Regions from separate parts of the Homo sapiens genome. Here region 1 is linked to region 2. Evidence: fine-mapped expression QTL. A gene starts in region 2. The other region holds a variant in brackets. All regions are shown on one strand. Distances are from middle to middle. Region 1 overlaps LIN52 (lin-52 DREAM MuvB core complex component). Region 2 holds the start of LIN52 (lin-52 DREAM MuvB core complex component).

Region 1 (8,333 bases), 120 kb before region 2:
CCTTCGCCTATTGCCTTCCATTCACCACCCCACTGTAATTGTTATATCTGGCCATTTCACTTATCCTTATGACAAAACCATTTCTTCCATGATATCATAACCTCTTTGCAAACACACCAAATGGCTGCATGGCAGTTCGCTACGGGAATGTACCATGATTTACTCAACAGCTGCACATCTGAACAGCCTTTGGGCCACTTGAAGGCAGAGGCAGCAGCAGCAGAGGTGGATGGCGGGAAGTAGGAGGCCAAGGTGAAGCAGCTCGCAGGACCTTGCTTCCCCATGAGCCCCCCGACCACCATTCCTCAGAGATCATTTCTGGTTCCAATCCTCACATATCCTTCATGGGTCCTGCCACAGCCAGCACTTCTCATTTCTACTCAGCCTCAAGTCACTGACTTTCCCAACTTGACTCTTCTCAGCTGCTCCTTTGTGTGAAGTCACTGGCTCAGGCCAGCTTGGCTCCTGGGGCTTGGCTGCGTCCAGAAAGGCCCTGGGATGTGACCTTCAGCCTCGCTTGACCCTGAGGCCTCAGGCTGCAGTCAGGCGAGGGTCTCTCCATGGGCTCCCAGAGAAGGCAAAGCCCAGAGGAGGCTGCTGCGGGAGCAGAAGCCTGAGTGGACCCTGCTTAGTCCTGGAAAGGGACCTGACAGGTTTGCGAGAACCTGACAAATCTCACACCATAGAAAACTATCTGGCCCAGGCACAGTGGCTCATCCCAATACTTTGGGAGGCGGAGGTGGGCGGATCACTTGAGCCCAGGAGTTCGAGACCAGCCTGGGCAACATGGCGAAACCCCATCTCTGCAAAAAATACAAAAATTAGCCAGATGTGGTGGCACGTGCTTGTGGTCCCAACTACTTTGGAGGCTGAGGCAGGAGGACTGCTTGAGCCCAGAAGGCAGAGGTTGCAGCGAGCTGAGATCGTGCCACTGCACTCTAGCCTTGGTGACAGAGGGAGACCCTGTCTCACCAAAAAAAGGAAGGAAGGAAGGGAGGGAGGGAGGGAGGCAGGGAGGGGGGAGGGGGAGGAGTGGGGGAAGGAGGGAAGGGAAGGGAAGGGAAAGGAAAAAGAAAACTATCTGGAGGAATGTGGAGGACTGGTGGGTTAGGGGTAGGAGGTTATGACTGAATCAAACAGGGAAGTGTGTTCCTGTGCAGTGATTGGAAAAGCATGGATGCTCAGAAAATACTAGGACTACAAAGATTAGCAAAGTACAGTGATTTGAGGCTTATGTATGCCAAGTTCAGTATCAGTTCAGAAACTTGCCAATGTCACAAAGTATACCTTTCCCTCCCTTGCTTAATGCCACTGTCTGTAGAGTCAACAATGGTTTCTACTGAGTGTCCATGCTGGCACAGGGCCTCAGTGGGTGGAAGGATGGGGGTAGGAGAAATAGTAAACTGTCAGCTCTTCTGAAGGGTTACAGAAATGGTATTCTGCTTAACTGACTAGTCAAGGTAACCAGAAGTTACTATATTTTCCCTATAGGGATTGCCAATGTTTTTTTTGTTTGTCGTTTGTTTTTGTGTGAGACAGTCTCACTCTGTCACCCAGTGTGGAGTGCAGTGGTGCAATCTCAGATCACTGCAACTTCTGCCTCCCAGGTTCAAGCAATTCCCTTCCCTCAGCCTCCTGAGTAGCTGGGAGTACAGGCACCTGCCACCCTGCACAGCTAAATTTTTTTGTATTTTTTCATTTTTTTTTTATAGTAGAGACGGGGTTTTGCCATGTTGGCCAGGCTGGTCTTGAACTCCTGACTTCAAGTGATCCACCCGCCTCAGCCTCCCAAAGTGCTGGGATTACAGGTGTGAGCCACCATGTCCGGCCTAGGGATTGTCAATTTTTAACAAATGTGAGTATAATAAAAAATTAAATACTACATGGAATCTGTTTTATAGATCTATCCATCAAGCAATTATATACGTAATGGGTAAGATATGCCATGCACCATTCTCAACACTTTGCAATACTCGTTTAATCTCTACAGCTACCCTAGTAGTTAGGTGCTATTTGCACCCAGGCAGCCTGACTTCAGAGCCTGTGCCCTTATCCATGATGCTGATATGACTCTTTAAAGTGGAAAAAGTCCTAAGGAAACCAAGGCTTAGAGAGAAGTAACTTACACAAGATCACCCCTGCCTCTCTCTCAAAATCCAAGCACTTACTATATCTTAGACCAGCAATGAGGCTATGAACACCGAATGTCAAGGCACAGTTCATTCTTTCAACAAATGCTTATTTTAGCACCTATTATGTGCCAGGTAGTTCTGTTTATAACCAAAGAAACTGTAGGAAATTGAACAAATTTGGATCAATTCTTTGGCATGTCCCAAAAGTTATTTTTAAAAGTCAAATCTTATCATTATCCTCTCTGTGCCTCAGAAAACTGAAGGTAGAAAAACAATGCAACTCTGATTACTTGAGTTTTTTGGCTCCTCAGATTCTACATAACTGAATCTCCTTTGGTATTGGAGGTCACTTTCAGAAACATCAGGTATAGAGATCGAGACAGAAAGCAGAGGGCAAGAGAGAGATGAAAATATGTGAGCCCAATTCTGCTCCGAACTTGGGTTTAATTGAGATTCCAACTGCCACTCTCCCCTGCATTCCTTTGTCCCTGGCTATGACCAAGTTTACGGCTGTATCGCCCCAAGTAATCCCCGTAATGGGCTGCAATCCTGGGGGAGCTGTTTTTGTTCATTAAGTGACCAACCTCTGAGCCACATGGAGCGCGGCCAGTTACAGCTTCTTGCCCTGGCAGATGGGCCACTTTTCTGTTTTAAAAAAACAGGGATCTTTCAGGAGAGAGGAGATAGTAGGCAGGGGTTGGGGACACAATCAGGGACATAAAGGTGATGGGTGCTAGAAATGAAGGCCAGAGTGAGGGGGGCAGTGGGTGCCCCTTCCAGGTCATGCAGTCTTCTAGGGCAGAATTCACTCACGTGCTGTGTGTTAGCTTTCTTTGCAATGGTAACTATAGTTGTGTAGGGCTTACAGTTTGTGAAGGGCTCAATGTAGTTCCTGGAGTGATGCTACCAGTCTGCAGAGGTGGGAGGAGTGAGGGGGCCATAGACAGGAGGCAGCGAATGAACAGAGTAGGGCAAATAGCTGAGAGGGGGCTTCCCCTGAGGGTCAGAAATTCTCAGTGCTTCAGACTCCAGCTCAAGTGACAGGGGCCAGGCTGTGCCAAGAGCAGTTCTCTCAAGCCAACTGACTCTTACCTCTCTGCCCACAGCCCCAGTGTCTGCTTCTTGAAGTTGGGGAAACATTGCAGCAGCTGCTTGTTGGGAGACCCGTCCCCTCACTGCACTGCCCCACCCCCTCCCCGCCACCTGCCCCACCACCCCATGTCTGTCCTCTGGGTAGAGTTGTGTGAAGCGGAAGACAATTTGGGGCTTATTAGTGTCCCAGGGAGACATGTAACTTGTGTTGCTGGGACCCAAACAGCAAGAGTCTTAGCGGCAAACTCCAGCCGAGAAAAGACTGAGGAATTGTCTCACCTAATTACAGGGAATGGCCCTCTTTGTGTTTGTGATTCGGTACGGTTGTCCGATCGCTTTTGATCGCTTTTCTCTATTTGCTGGCTCAGGCCATGCTGGAATTGTGCTAATTAGAAGAGAAATGGACAGAGTGATCCTGTCAGCCCTGGTTACTGGTGGGGACAAAGCAGAATATTATTCTGAGGCAGTGTTTTGTGAGGGCCCTTCTTCCAGCTCTCATTAGGAGGAAGGGGCCCACAGGAGGGGAAGGTTCCAAATGCCTGGCCCAGCTAATGGAGCACTGGGGTGTTTCTGTGCTAATTAACAGGCTTTGCCAGCACTCACGCCAACCAGGAGCCTCACAGTTACACCTGGTATCGTCTGAAGCCCCCAGCTGCTCGAGAGGAAAAAGCGCCAGGCAAAGGGTGGGAAGGCCAGTGGCCTCTTTAGGCATAGACAAGGACACACACCCCAAATGCCAAAAAGCCTACATAGATAGGAAAAATCAGTTCCAGTCCATCAGAACTTACAACCGTGGAGACACCACCCTTTGCCACTCTCTGGGGTTGGGGGTTGCAAGACTCTCTGGTGAAACAAAGCCCACATAGGGACCAGGTATCCTTGTAGCTCTCACGAGATGAAGAAAACAGAAAATGGAGAACATAACCAAATTCTTGGAGACGGAGTTAGTGCAGAAGCTGAGAACTGGTAAGAGACTGTGTTATTTGGCTTCTGCGACCATCCACCTTGGCCCAACTGTCCATTTCCTCACTTCCTGCTCTGCCTGTTCACCTTCTTGTGATGTCTTAATCCTGGAGGAAACAGGAGGGGTCAGGGAATCCCACTGGAAATGAAATTTCTCGGCTTCATTTCAAAGCTCCTGTGGAAGTCCAAACACACTTCTGAAGCCACAGGGACAAGGGAATGACTTTCATCAGTTCCATTTTCACTGCCTTGATCTGGGAGCATCCAGAAGAGCAGCTAGAGAACTAAAACCACGGAGCAGTTAGCAAGCATCCATTTAAAAAATATGACAAAAATGGAAAGATAAAAATGAATGATGGCATTTCAATATCAACACAATTAATACCCTGTGAACTTTAAGTGTTCTAACCTATGGAAGGCAGGCCAAGCAAATCAGCAGAGGCCTAGAATCTGTGAGACTGAAGACAGCAAGAAATAATGAGAGTGCTGGTAAGAAAAAAATGTCAATAAGAATTTGCAAATGTGTCTCCAAGCTCCAATACTATGCTTTTCAGAATG[T/C]TGCTGCTCACAGCTGACAGATGCTTTACAGGATGGTATTTGGAATGGCAAAGGAAAAGGGAAAAAATATCTGTAGGCAAATAATAAACAATTACTTACCGTAAAAATAGTCTCTAAAGACTTAGAACACTCCTAACACTGTCCCTACTTAGTCAATCAGCCATGCTTTTCTAGATCACAGAAATCTACTGTTCATCCAGATGTCTTTTTTGGAAATAAATGATGGGCCTATGATGAGAAGCAATTTGCTTTCCTTAAAATGAAATGCTTTCTTTAAAAGGGCATATTCTGGTCCAGAGCAGGTAAACTATCAATGAGTGATAGCAGTAGCAATAATGAGTACTTCCTCTTTTCTAGTTCTTGAACATGGTTGAAAAGGAACCCACACTAAGGGATTTAGAAGATGGCAGATAAATACTTGTTTTCAATCTATCATGTGTAACCAGAAGCCTGCAAGCAAACAGGTTTTGAACCCCTAGTTCAAAGACACTGAAGAACTAGATGTGCAGGAGACAGCTATACCTTGAGAAGCTTTGAATTTAGTAGGGCAATAAGATATGTACTCAGTGTCAGGCGTAGTGGCTCACACCTGTAATCCCAGCACTTTGGGAGGCCGAGGCGGGAGGATCACTTGAGGCCAGGAGTTCGAGACCAGCCTGGCCAACTTGGCAAAAACCCGTCTCTACTAAAAATACAAAAATTAGCTGGGCGTGGTGGCATGCACCTGTAATCCCAGCTACTAGGGTGGCTGAGGCAGAGAATCGCTTGAACCCGGGAGGCAGAGGTTGCAGTGAGCCAAAATTGCACCACTGCACTCCAGCCTGGGCAACAGAGTGAGACTCTGTCTCAAAAAGAAAAAGTACTCAGACCACTTAAATATAAGGCAGACTATGGTAAGAGTCACAGGGATGATATGGGTAAATGCTATAGGAATGTAGGGGAAGGACCATTTCCAGCTGGATCATCAGGAGATTATAGGAAGCATAGGTTTGCCAGATGCAAAAGGGATCCAAGACCTTCTAGGAACTCAAAGGCAGGAGCAAAGGCACTCAAGTGAGAAACTGGGAACTGTTCAGAGTAACTGCAACAGAGACTTCATATATAGGAGAGGAAGAAAACGAAACGGAAGGGTTGCTTAGGATTACATGTAGAGAGTCTTAAAATGCCGGGTCAAGAGATTGAGACTTTATTAGTAGACACGGGAAGGTATTAAGGGTTTCTAAATACTACTTTCGGGTGTTGGGCAGTGGTAGGATAGAATGGAAGGCAGGAGACCAAGTAGATGACTGTAAAGCCCCCAACTATCCATTAAGTATATTAAGGGGGAAAACAGTAGATTATTTATCATTACAGTTGTACTTTCTGGGGAGGTCTGTGCTTTAAATATCCAACTCGGCCCTCTGAGGAAAAACTCACCCTCCTGTAAAAGGGACATATTTATTATGAAGACACAAAAACCATCACATACAAAGTACAATACTATAACATCCTGAAATACATATACACACATACTGTACATAAATTTATATTATCAATATAAAAATACATCATTAACATTTCTAAGGATGACAAATACTAAACCAATAAATATTGCAATTCTAAAACATCTACTTACATTAAGTGCTGGTGAATAGGATGACGGTAAAAGAAAGAGGACAAAGCGGACCAGAAAACCAACCACCTGGCTTCCAGTTACAGACTTGAGTTGGTTTGGGGGAGGTATCCCAATCAATTTCCCCAAACACTGAAAAGTGCCTGATGTCATCAACTCTCAAAAACAGAGCAAAGGAAGAATTTGACATTATGGCACTATTTTTTGGCCACATGCGCGCGCGCACACACACACACACACTCTTCAACCGCATTTAGTGAGATACAGAAATATCAATCGATAATAAGTTTAAATTAAAATCAAAGCCCCTACAACCTAACCTTCTATGTAGCACCCCAGCAGAATGTTTTACTTCTCATACTCATCTTTCCTATCTTGTGTTAAGTCTTTTTTCCTTTCAATAAGTAAAACTACATTGATGGTCAAATGAGAGAAAAATCCAGCATTAATTCTAGCATGAGAACAAGGCACAAATGTCAGAAAAGGTTTAATGGATCAGCTGTTAAACTGAAGAGTGCCATGCCCTAGCAAACACTCACGACTCAAAACCATAACTTTTCTTGTGTCCAAACACCATCAGACTATTGCCACAGGGATATTCTTTTTTTTTTTTTTTTTTTTTTTTTTTTTCTGAGACAGAGTCTCACTCTGTTGCCCAGGCTGGAGTGCAGTGGCATAATTTCGGCTCACTGCAACCTCCACCTCCCGAATTCAAGCGATTCTCGTGCCTCAGGCCCCCAAGTAGCTGGGACTATAGGCATGCACCATCATGCCCAGCTAATTTTTGTATTTTAGTAGAGACAGGGTTTCACCATATTGGCCAGGATGGTCTCGATCTTTTGACCTATGATCCACCTGCCTCGGCCTCCCAAAGTGCTGGGATTACAGGCGTGAGCCACCATGCCCGGCCCCAGGATATTCTTTTGTGCAAAGTTTAGGAAACTCCATGCACTTCTCAAAACATCAGATGCTGGGGACTGGCTTATACAAGAAATATGGAGAACACATATAATAGATTTTAGCCATGGGCTAGATTTTCAGATTTTAACAGAGACAGATAAGTGGTGAAGAACTCCATGAAAGTTGTATTTAAGTCAGAAGATTCTTTTTCGTGTGTGTGCGTTTCTATTATATAGATGAACTATTTCATATGTGCTGTCAGAGGGGACAATCCCACCATCCCATAGCATGTTACTTTAAGGTCAATTAGGGCTTCTAGCTTTCAACCAAATGGGAACTCCTATAAACCATCCCGTTTCTCTTGTCTTTCAGGCTATACTGACTTTCTTGCTTGAAGCTGTAACAGATTAATTAGAACTCAAAAGTCCTTTCTGTCACCTTCACATTGGTCTTTAGACAACCTTGGATGGGCCTTTCACTATACAAGCTAATTCCAGGAGGGACTCAGGGATCCCTCTGCCCGAAGTCAGAACTAGAAGGTGGGGCTGGGAAGTAAGGAATGAAAAGCAAATGGGACTATCATAAGAGGTATAGAAGTTTTAAAAAACAGATATACATTTCGAGAAGATTCTGGTTTCTTCAGCTGGGGATTCTGGGAACTTAGTATATACTGGAGAGTTCACAGGTCAGGCTGCATGGTCTGGTCCAGAATCTACTTGGTCTCTGGTCTCCTCACATCGTAAACACTTTCTAAGAGATCAAGAACAATTCAAAAGAACCCATCCAATCAACATGTCACAACTGACTGCCATGACTGAGTCAAATCAACCGTAAGATCCTGGGGCTCCTGAATCACTTCCAGAAATGAGAAAGCAGGACTTCGACCTTTAAGAATGATATGCCCTCAGCTGTTACCAATATCCGAGGCTAAGAAGGTTCAAGTCTGAAAGTTGATTGAGTAACTGCAATGATCCTTGGGTAGAGCAGATTCTTCTCTTGCTGCTGAATGTCCTCAGACGTGTAGAGTGCCAGGAGCAGGGGAGAGGGCAGTCCTGGAGGTACACCCTCTGGCCTCT
Region 2 (8,333 bases):
TCTATAAAATCTTACTCAGCCTCTACCTAATTCTTTGACATCATTTCTCTTCCACTCTTCCCTTGCACACAGTAGTACTCAATATTAACATTTGTTGAGTTTTTATTGTATGCTCAGTATGCTAACCAGTTGCATAACTAGTTCATTTAATGCTATAAACAGCAGTTCTTAACATTTTCTGGGTAACCACATCTCTGGAAATCTGGGAAATAAAATGAACTCACTCCCCAGAAAATATACATACGTACAAAATGTACTTTTCTCTAAACTGAATTTGTTTTGCCAAATATTCCAAAGGAATTTCCAATGGCATTTTAATTGTAAAGAACTCAACTAATACATTGCCTTAATTAAAGCATCCAAAAATTAGCTTCTCTTTGTTACCGATTTCTGAGGAATGTTCAACCATAACAAAAGTAAAGTTATTGGGCCAGGTACAGTGGCTCATGTCTGGAATCCCAGTGCTTTGGGAAGCCGAGGCAGGAAGATTGCTTGAGCCCAGGAGTTTGAGACCATCCTGGGCAACATAGTGAGACTCCATCTCTACAAAAAATAATAAGGTGGGGGCATGGTGGCTCACGCCTGTAATCCTAGCACTTTGGGAGGCCGAGGTGAGTGCATCACCTGAGGTCAGGAGTTCAAGACTAGCCTGGGCAACATGGTGAAACCCCGTCTCTACTCAAAATACAAAAATTAGCCAGGTGTGGTGGCGTGTGCCTGTTATCCCAGCTACTGGAGAGGCTGATGCATGAGAATTACTTGAACCCAGGAGGCGGAGGTTGCAGTGACCCGAGATCATGCCACAGCACTCCAGCCTGGGTGACAGAGTGAGACTCCGTCTCAAAACAAAATAAATAATAATAATAATAAATTAGCTGGGCATGGTGGTGTGAGCCTATAGTACCAGCTACTTAGGAGGCTGAGATGGGAGAATCGCTTGAGCCTTTGAGGGTGCAGTGAGCTATAATCATATCACTGCATTTCAGCATGGGCAATAGAGTGAGAGAGACCCTGTCTCTAAAAGAAAGTTAAAAAAAAATTATTGGGGGTACAATCTAATAACCTACATGGGTGACCTTATGATACCACAGTCTGGGATAGAACTCAGACTCTGCTGTGAGTCTTACTCTCATAAATTAAGTAATTAGATGGCTGTATTTGAATTTCAGTTTTCTCCTTTTCAAAGACGCTCCAGCAAATTTATCACGAAAAAGACAAAAGAGTAAATGACAAACATATTAAAATAAATATTATCTGAATTAAATTTTAAAGACAGTGACAGGTGGAACACTAAAAATAGAAGTGAAAGAGCTAGGCCGTGGAATATTTTGGAATGAGATACTTATTTAGAAGCTGAATTTAAGTTCAAAGTGCTTGACTTGATTTTTTCAGATTAAAAAGAAAACATTAGGTGGAGAGGAGTGAAACTTTGTAAGAGATGAGAATGAAAACTTAAAAATCAAGAGTGCAAATAAAGTGACCATAGAGATGGCTAGAAAAGGAAAAAAATTTAATTTTTTTTTTTTTTTTTTTTTTTGCAATGGAGTCTCGCTCTGTCCCAGGCTGGAGTGCAGTGGCGTGATCTCGGCTCACTGCAAGCTCTGCCTCCCGGGTTCACGCCATTCTCCTGCCTCAGCCTCCTGAGTAGCTGGGACTACAGGCACCCACCACCACGCCTGGCTAATTTTTTGTATTTTTTAGTAGAGACAGGGTTTCACTGTGTTAGCCAGGATGGTCTCGATCTCCTGACCTCGTGATCCACCCATCTCGCCCTCCCAAAGTGCTGGGATTACAGGCGTGAGCCACCACGCCAAGCCAAATTTAATGTTTTTAATACTCTTCCTGGCCAAAGAAAGGAAACTAAATTGAGAGATGACAGGGGAAAAAAATCAAACTCAAGGAACACATCTCTAAAATCCCCAAAGTTTGTAAAAACAATTTAAAAATAAACTAAAAAGTTTAATAACAATTACTTCTACTTGTATTACTTGGCTTTTTTTTTCAACTGTGGTGAAATATACATAAATTTTACCATTTTAATAACTTTTAAGTATACATTTCAGTGGTATTAAGTACATTAATTGTGCAATCATCACATTCATTTCCAGAATTCTTTCACCTTCCCAAACTGAAATTTGGTACCCATTAACAATAACTCCCTATTCCCTTGCCTGACTTTTTAAATGCCCTTCTTTCTGGCAAGAGAAGGACATTTTTGCAAGAGCGCACCCAGGCAGGAGAATCTCTTTTGACTCCAAACATCCATAATTTCTTTTTTTTTCCTTCTTTTTTTTCTGAGACGGGGTCTCGCTTTGTCACACAGACTGGAGTGCAGTGGCATGAACATGGTTCACTGCCGCCTCCACCCCCTGGGCTCAAGAGATTCTCTTGCCTCAGCCCCCCCAAGTAGCTGGGACTACAGGTTTGTGGCATCACACCCAGATAATTTTTGTATTTTTTTGTAGAGATGGGGTTTCACCATGTTGTCTAGGCTGGTCTTCAATTCCTGAGCTCAGGCGATCTGCCTGCCTCAGCCTCCCAAAGTGCTGGGATTAGAAGTGTGAACCACCACGCCCAGCCATAATTTCTAATACAGTATGTACCTGCGCTCACAAAATTTAAGACTCGGTTAAACTTAAAACTTAAGATCAAGTAATATATTATTTCTGCATATATCTAATCAATCTTTCAATAAATGTTAATTAAAGACCTACTGTTCGTCAGGCACTGTGCTAAACCTGGATCCAACTATGAACAAGACAAACTTGGAATTTACAATCTAGCGCAAAAGGGGCAAAGTTAACAGAGTAACTATGCTGACAAGGAAGATACTGAGATAATGAATAATGGTGGGAAAGGGCAACTCCAGATACTGTGTTCTAAGAAAGACTCTTTGGGAGGTGACATCTAAAAAGAGAACTGAAACTGAAAAAAAAAAATGTTTATATGTTTGAGTCATCTTTTGGTCTCCCAAAGCACCTAGCATTATGCCTTTCATGTAGCAGGTACTTAATATAGCTCACCTTGGCTTCAATTTCTTCATTCCTGCAATGAACTTCCAAGATTCCTTCCAAATATAAAATGTTTTTGTCTAAGGGAAGGAAACCTATATATCAATAAAATCGATATATAGTTGGGATGAGGATGGTAGAACTAAAAATGAGTTTAAAAATGACTGCAAGACCCTAACTCTCTAAAGCAGAACCAAGAGGAAAAGCATGGGAGTATACCAAAACAACTTAATTGTTACTTGAAATGACTTGCATTTTACACAATATATAAACAGAAATCGTTAATTCACTCAGCCTTAAGAAACAACACGTAAAGCAGATGGAAGACAGGTTGCGACCTGTGCAAGACGACACTTAAAAGCTCAATACTGATTCTCCTCGCGACTCTCAGGGCGAGGGGCCGAGAACGTCCCCCGCTTCTCTTGCTGCCACGGCAATGGTCCCAAACTGAGGAGACAGGAGAGAGATCATGTTTCTCTTGCGGTTCAGTATCGAGATGAGGTCAGCCAGCAGCCCTGCGAGGGTTTGTGAGAATCATTCCATCCGTGCGCTCAATCAGAAGAGAACTGATCCTTTCAATGGGTACCCCAAGGAAAAAACTACAGTAAGCCACGTCCTCCAGAAACATCTCCTCCTCGACCCTCAGCCTCGCCCAAATAGAGATAAGGAAGGCACAGGGCGACCCCCCTGTCCTTTTACCCAGAATGAGTCCCTCCCTAGTGCCCTCCTCCACACGCCTGGTACAGAGCGGGGAAACTGGGCACCTCCGGAGCTGCTGTGAAGAACCGGTGAGCTGAAGACGGCGATGGATCTCAAGAAAAAAAATAAAAGGGAAAGGAGAAGAGCCCAAGAAAGAAATGTATGTTCGAGGGGCAGAGACAGAGTGGATGTTCCCAGTAGAGCAAAGAAGGAGGCTGCAGGCAAAGATCTCTAAGCCGGCTCTTACCGTCTGTGGGAGACGCCATCTTCCAACCCATGTCACGTGACGTGGCCAACCGTCGGCGGGAAAACGAGGTTCCATAAGCCACGCCCCCAAAGAGAAACCCTATCCCCAACTCGCAGCCCAGTCTCATTCCCTCGCCTCATAGGGCAATCTTTGCCTAGCCCCGCCCCTAAGTATAGCCACGCCCCTTACGCGGATGTTGAGGTGGAGCGACTGCAAAATTCTTGAAGGGTCTTATTTACTTTTTTCAGTGGGGGGGTGGGGCCTCGGTTCCGCCCTTGGCCAATCGGAGTTCCAGGTTAGGGGGGCGTCTTCCCCGTGTGCTCGGTAGGGAGTGTCCAAGTCAGGGGCGTCTTCTCTACCTCCGCCTACGTCATTGGCTGAGGTGGCAGAGGGCGAGAGCATTTTCGCTCCTAACCAATCACTTATCCCCAGGACGGGGGTGTGAGGAGAGGAATCAGGTGTTCGGACCAGTGATTGGCTGGAGAAAATAGTCCTCCCCACCAATGAGGAAGCCTGGCAGGATGGAGGGCGAGGCCTGGCAGCTGTAGTGCTTCTGGGCAGTAGAGGCGCGGGGTGCGGAGCTAGGGCGGCCGAGAGCCATGGCGGCGCTATTGGCGGCGGCGGCAGTGCGAGCCCGGATCCTGCAGGCGAGTGAGGGTGGTGCCAAGGCACCATGAAGCTAGGAATTGGATCCTTTCCGTCCGCTCCCTGAGCCATCCTCGGGCGGGACCACCTTCTTGGCCCAACCCCTTTTTGGCCAGACCTCCTACCCGACCTGTGCGGCCCTGTCCCATGCCCAGCCCTCACTTCATAACCTCCCTGGTCCCGGATCCAACCCTGGGCTGTTACCCTTGGCCCTCTACCCTTTTACTCCTAAGCCTCCTCTTTTCTGGCTCTCGCCCACTCTCCTTCTCCAGCTCTGCCCGCTCCCTGCTGTCACTCTCTTGCCCTCATCTCTCCATCCGCCCACCGTCTTTCCTTTTTACCTCTGCACCAGCCTTCTCTCTCTCCCCCAGAAACTACTCTTTTTGGTTACTCTGTCCCCTGCCGTGAGCGTCCACTTTGCCATTGCTCCCTTCCCCCACCCTACTTCACTATCCGTGGTGATCTGAGGTAAGGGGGAGGGGGGACGCGAGGGGCGAGGGTCAGTGTATGAACTTTGAATTTCCTTCTAGAGGTGGACTCTAGATTTTCACCAAAGGCAGCCATTTGCTAAGCTATTTTCCCTAAGTGTGGCTCTTTGTATTTTCCATGGACTGGCTGTCCCCTTTCTTGCCAAAACTTTGAGTTAAACTTTTTCTCAGCTAAGTTACAGTTTACATAGATAGGGCACATCTACATAGATAGGGTAGATAAGGGCACACAGTTAAAGCTACCAGTATGTTCCATGTATGTTCAAGGTACCAAACATCTTTAAAACGGGTGATAGAAAGTGGGAGCCAGGTAAGACAAGAAGTCTAAGTTCCCACCCCAAAATCAGCTCTTCTAGTGCTACACACCCTCATCTCTGCACTTGGGGGATTGAGTCCTCTCTGAAGCCAACCTAAGGAGAAATGGTAAAGCTACAGGAGTTGCATGCCTGAGGCCTGTAATCTCCAACTCTGTTTATAGTCTTTCCCCTGTTCATGGCCTACCAAGGATTTAGAGTATGTGGCAAGATTTACCGCAGGCAAGAAACAGTCTGCAAGAAACAACAGTGCCGTTCTTATTCATTACATCCAGTCTGAGAATTTCCTCTATATTGCTGAGCTTTTAGGTAATATTAGTATTCACCAGGTTTCCGTGAGTTCTAGTAAAGAAACTTGGGCAGTTTTAAGATTCTTGGCAGAGTCAGCAAAGATTCATTTTTAAATATGCTATTTAATGGGGAAGGTAGAAAGGATGAGTTTGAAGGGTTTGGCAGATGGTCTGGCCTCACTCATATTTCTTGCTGCGATCCTTGTTCTGTTCTAGTATCTTTTTTTAGTAGCAGGAAAACAAAGTTTCCACCCTATATTTTTCTTACCAACTTCTTGAAATCTTTTACTGAAATTGGCTTTTTTCCTTTGCCTCCTCTTCCCCTCCCATCACAATGAGTCATTGAGAACCTTAAGAAAGTATTTTGTCCTTTTCCATCAAGGAGAAGAATCTCTCTTTCCATGTACTTTTATTTCAGAAACAGACACTATGTATTTTCTGATTCATTTGGAGAAACTTCTGAAGTGACCTGGAAAAGAACAGATAGAGTAATCCTCAGCCAACTAGGAGTTGTAACGTGAATCTTTGATTAAAAGTTCGATAAAAAGTAGCCTACGGGCCAGGCGCTGTAGCTCCTGCCTGTAATCCCTGCACTTTGGGAGGCCAAGGTGGGTGGATCACCTGAGGTCAGGAGTTCGAGACCAGCCTGACCAACATGGTAAAACCCCTTCTCTACTAAAAATACAAAAATTAGCCGGGTGTGGTGGCGGGCGACTGTAATCCCAGCTACTCAGGAAGTTGAGGCAGGAGAATCGCTTGAACCCGGAAGACGGAGGTTGCAGTGAGCTGAGATCGTGCCATTGCACTCCAGCCTGGGCGACAGAGCAAGACTCCATCAAAAAAAAAAAAAAAAAAAAAAAAAACCTCGATTTTGGCAGCCATGAATATTAGAGAACTATCAAAAGGATTTATAGAGGAGAAAGTTAATGTTTTCAATTATTTTAAGTATTCAGCTTATTTTTCTCTGCCACGAAGAGTAGTCAAACTTAACCTAAAACCTCTCTCTGCTCCTTGTGATATTATCACTCCCATGCAGAGATAAAGGAATGTTCGAGACAGGGTCTCGCTCTGTCACCCAGGCTGGAGTGCAGTGGTGCAATCACAACTCACAGCAGCCTCGACCTCCCACGCTGAAGTGATTCTTCCATCTCAGCCCTCCGAGTAGCTGCAACAACAGATCGTGCCCCCATGCCAGCTAATTTTTGTATTTTTTGTAGAGACAGGGTTTCACCATGTTGCCCAGGCTGGTCTTGAACTCTTAAACTCAAGCTATCCTCCCACCTCAGCCTCCCAAAGTGTTGGGACTACAGGCACGAACCGCTGCACCTGGGCAAGAAAATTACTCTTGAAGAGATGTAGCGACTTGCACTGTCGGTGATATGGTTACCGAACTAGTAACTGATGGGGCTGAAAATTCAGAACTTAAGTCTTGCCATCTCTTTCTATGTTAGGCACTGACATAGGCTTACAGTAAAATGCTCACTGAAAGCTCCTTTATTGTACTGCAATAAGTGATAAACAATAGGAGTATCTGGGATACTGTGGGGACCTAGGGAAAGAGCCAAGTATTGCAGGACTAGCAGGCCATGAACCAGGAGAGGAAGGAGTTCCTTATAAAGGATATAGCAAGTAGGAAGTAAACATCTAGAGAGCAGCAGTTTGGGGTGACTGGCCACAGGATAGTTTCTTCAGCAACAATGCTAATGGGTGTTTCTTAGGAAATGAAGAAAAGATAGAAGATCGAACCTGTCAAAAAACTATATGAATATGTTCTATTATACCAGATGTAGTGCTTTTTACATCCTCTTAACAGCAGGGAGGCTGTATACAAGTGAAAAAATAAAATTTAAGTGGCCTAGAATGCTCAAGTTGGCTGATCAGTGCATTGTCTGCCAACTTGAGAGTACTGAAACAATATCAAATGATTGCTTGGCGAGTACTCATTCTTTCATTGTGCAAAATATTGCTTACTAAGTACTTACTCTCTTCCAGGAATTGTGCTAGGGGCTGGGGACACAACAATCTAGTGACCTCAAAGGAGAGAAAGTTAATCATTAGACAAGCTATTATTTCATAGCGTGAGATGAGAAATAAAGGAATTTGGGTGCTTTATGAGCTTCACAATCAGCTGCTTACCATAGACCTGAGGTTGAGACTTCCTAGAGAAAGTGATGATGGCTGAGTGGGGACCTAAAGGAGTAGGAATGAGCCAAGGAAATTAGATGAAACAGTGCCAGGCAAGAGAGAGCAGCATGTGCAAGAGCAAAGAAAGCAAGACACACGTTAAATTGCAGGAGCATAGAGAACAGGGAGGAAAGTAGCCAGTTATGTAACTAGAAAAGCAAAGATACTATGTAGCGTTTTCTAAGCAACATCAAGGGGATTAGTCTTTATTCCAAGGGCAGTGGAAAGCCAAAGAAGAATTTTAAACAAGGGAATAATCTGACCAGATTTATGTTTCAGAAAGACCCTCTGATTATGGGATGGAAACTAGATTCAGAAAGTTTAAGAGTAGGCTGGGTGTGATGGCTCATGCCTGTAATCCCAACACTTTGGGTGGCCCAGGCAGGAGGATCGCTTGAGGCTAAGAGTTCAAAACCAGCCCTGGCAAGATAGGGAGGCCCCATCTCTACAAAAAA

What was found.
Region 1: its variant is fine-mapped to the expression of LIN52 in whole blood (INTERVAL, PIP above 0.99). The same link has a PIP of 0.9 or more in blood mononuclear cells.

The regions. Positions count from the first base shown.
Region 1 is chr14:74,199,069-74,207,401 of GRCh38, reverse strand. It overlaps LIN52 (lin-52 DREAM MuvB core complex component), which reads right to left. Exons shown (of 6, transcript NM_001024674.3): 6 at 5,909-8,333. Among named protein-coding and RNA genes, the nearest start is that of VSX2, 36 kb to the left of the region's middle. RefSeq lists a silencer at 5,029-5,229. The variant T/C (reference allele first, on the strand shown) is at 4,746.
Region 2 is chr14:74,080,618-74,088,950 of GRCh38, reverse strand. LIN52 (lin-52 DREAM MuvB core complex component) reads right to left here and starts at 3,995. Exons shown (of 6, transcript NM_001024674.3): 1 at 3,958-3,995. The coding sequence starts at 3,976. It overlaps ALDH6A1 (aldehyde dehydrogenase 6 family member A1), which reads left to right and starts at 4,498. Exons shown (of 12, transcript NM_005589.4): 1 at 4,498-4,604. The coding sequence starts at 4,557. It also overlaps a transcript of BBOF1 not described here. RefSeq lists enhancers at 2,877-2,966, 3,907-4,086.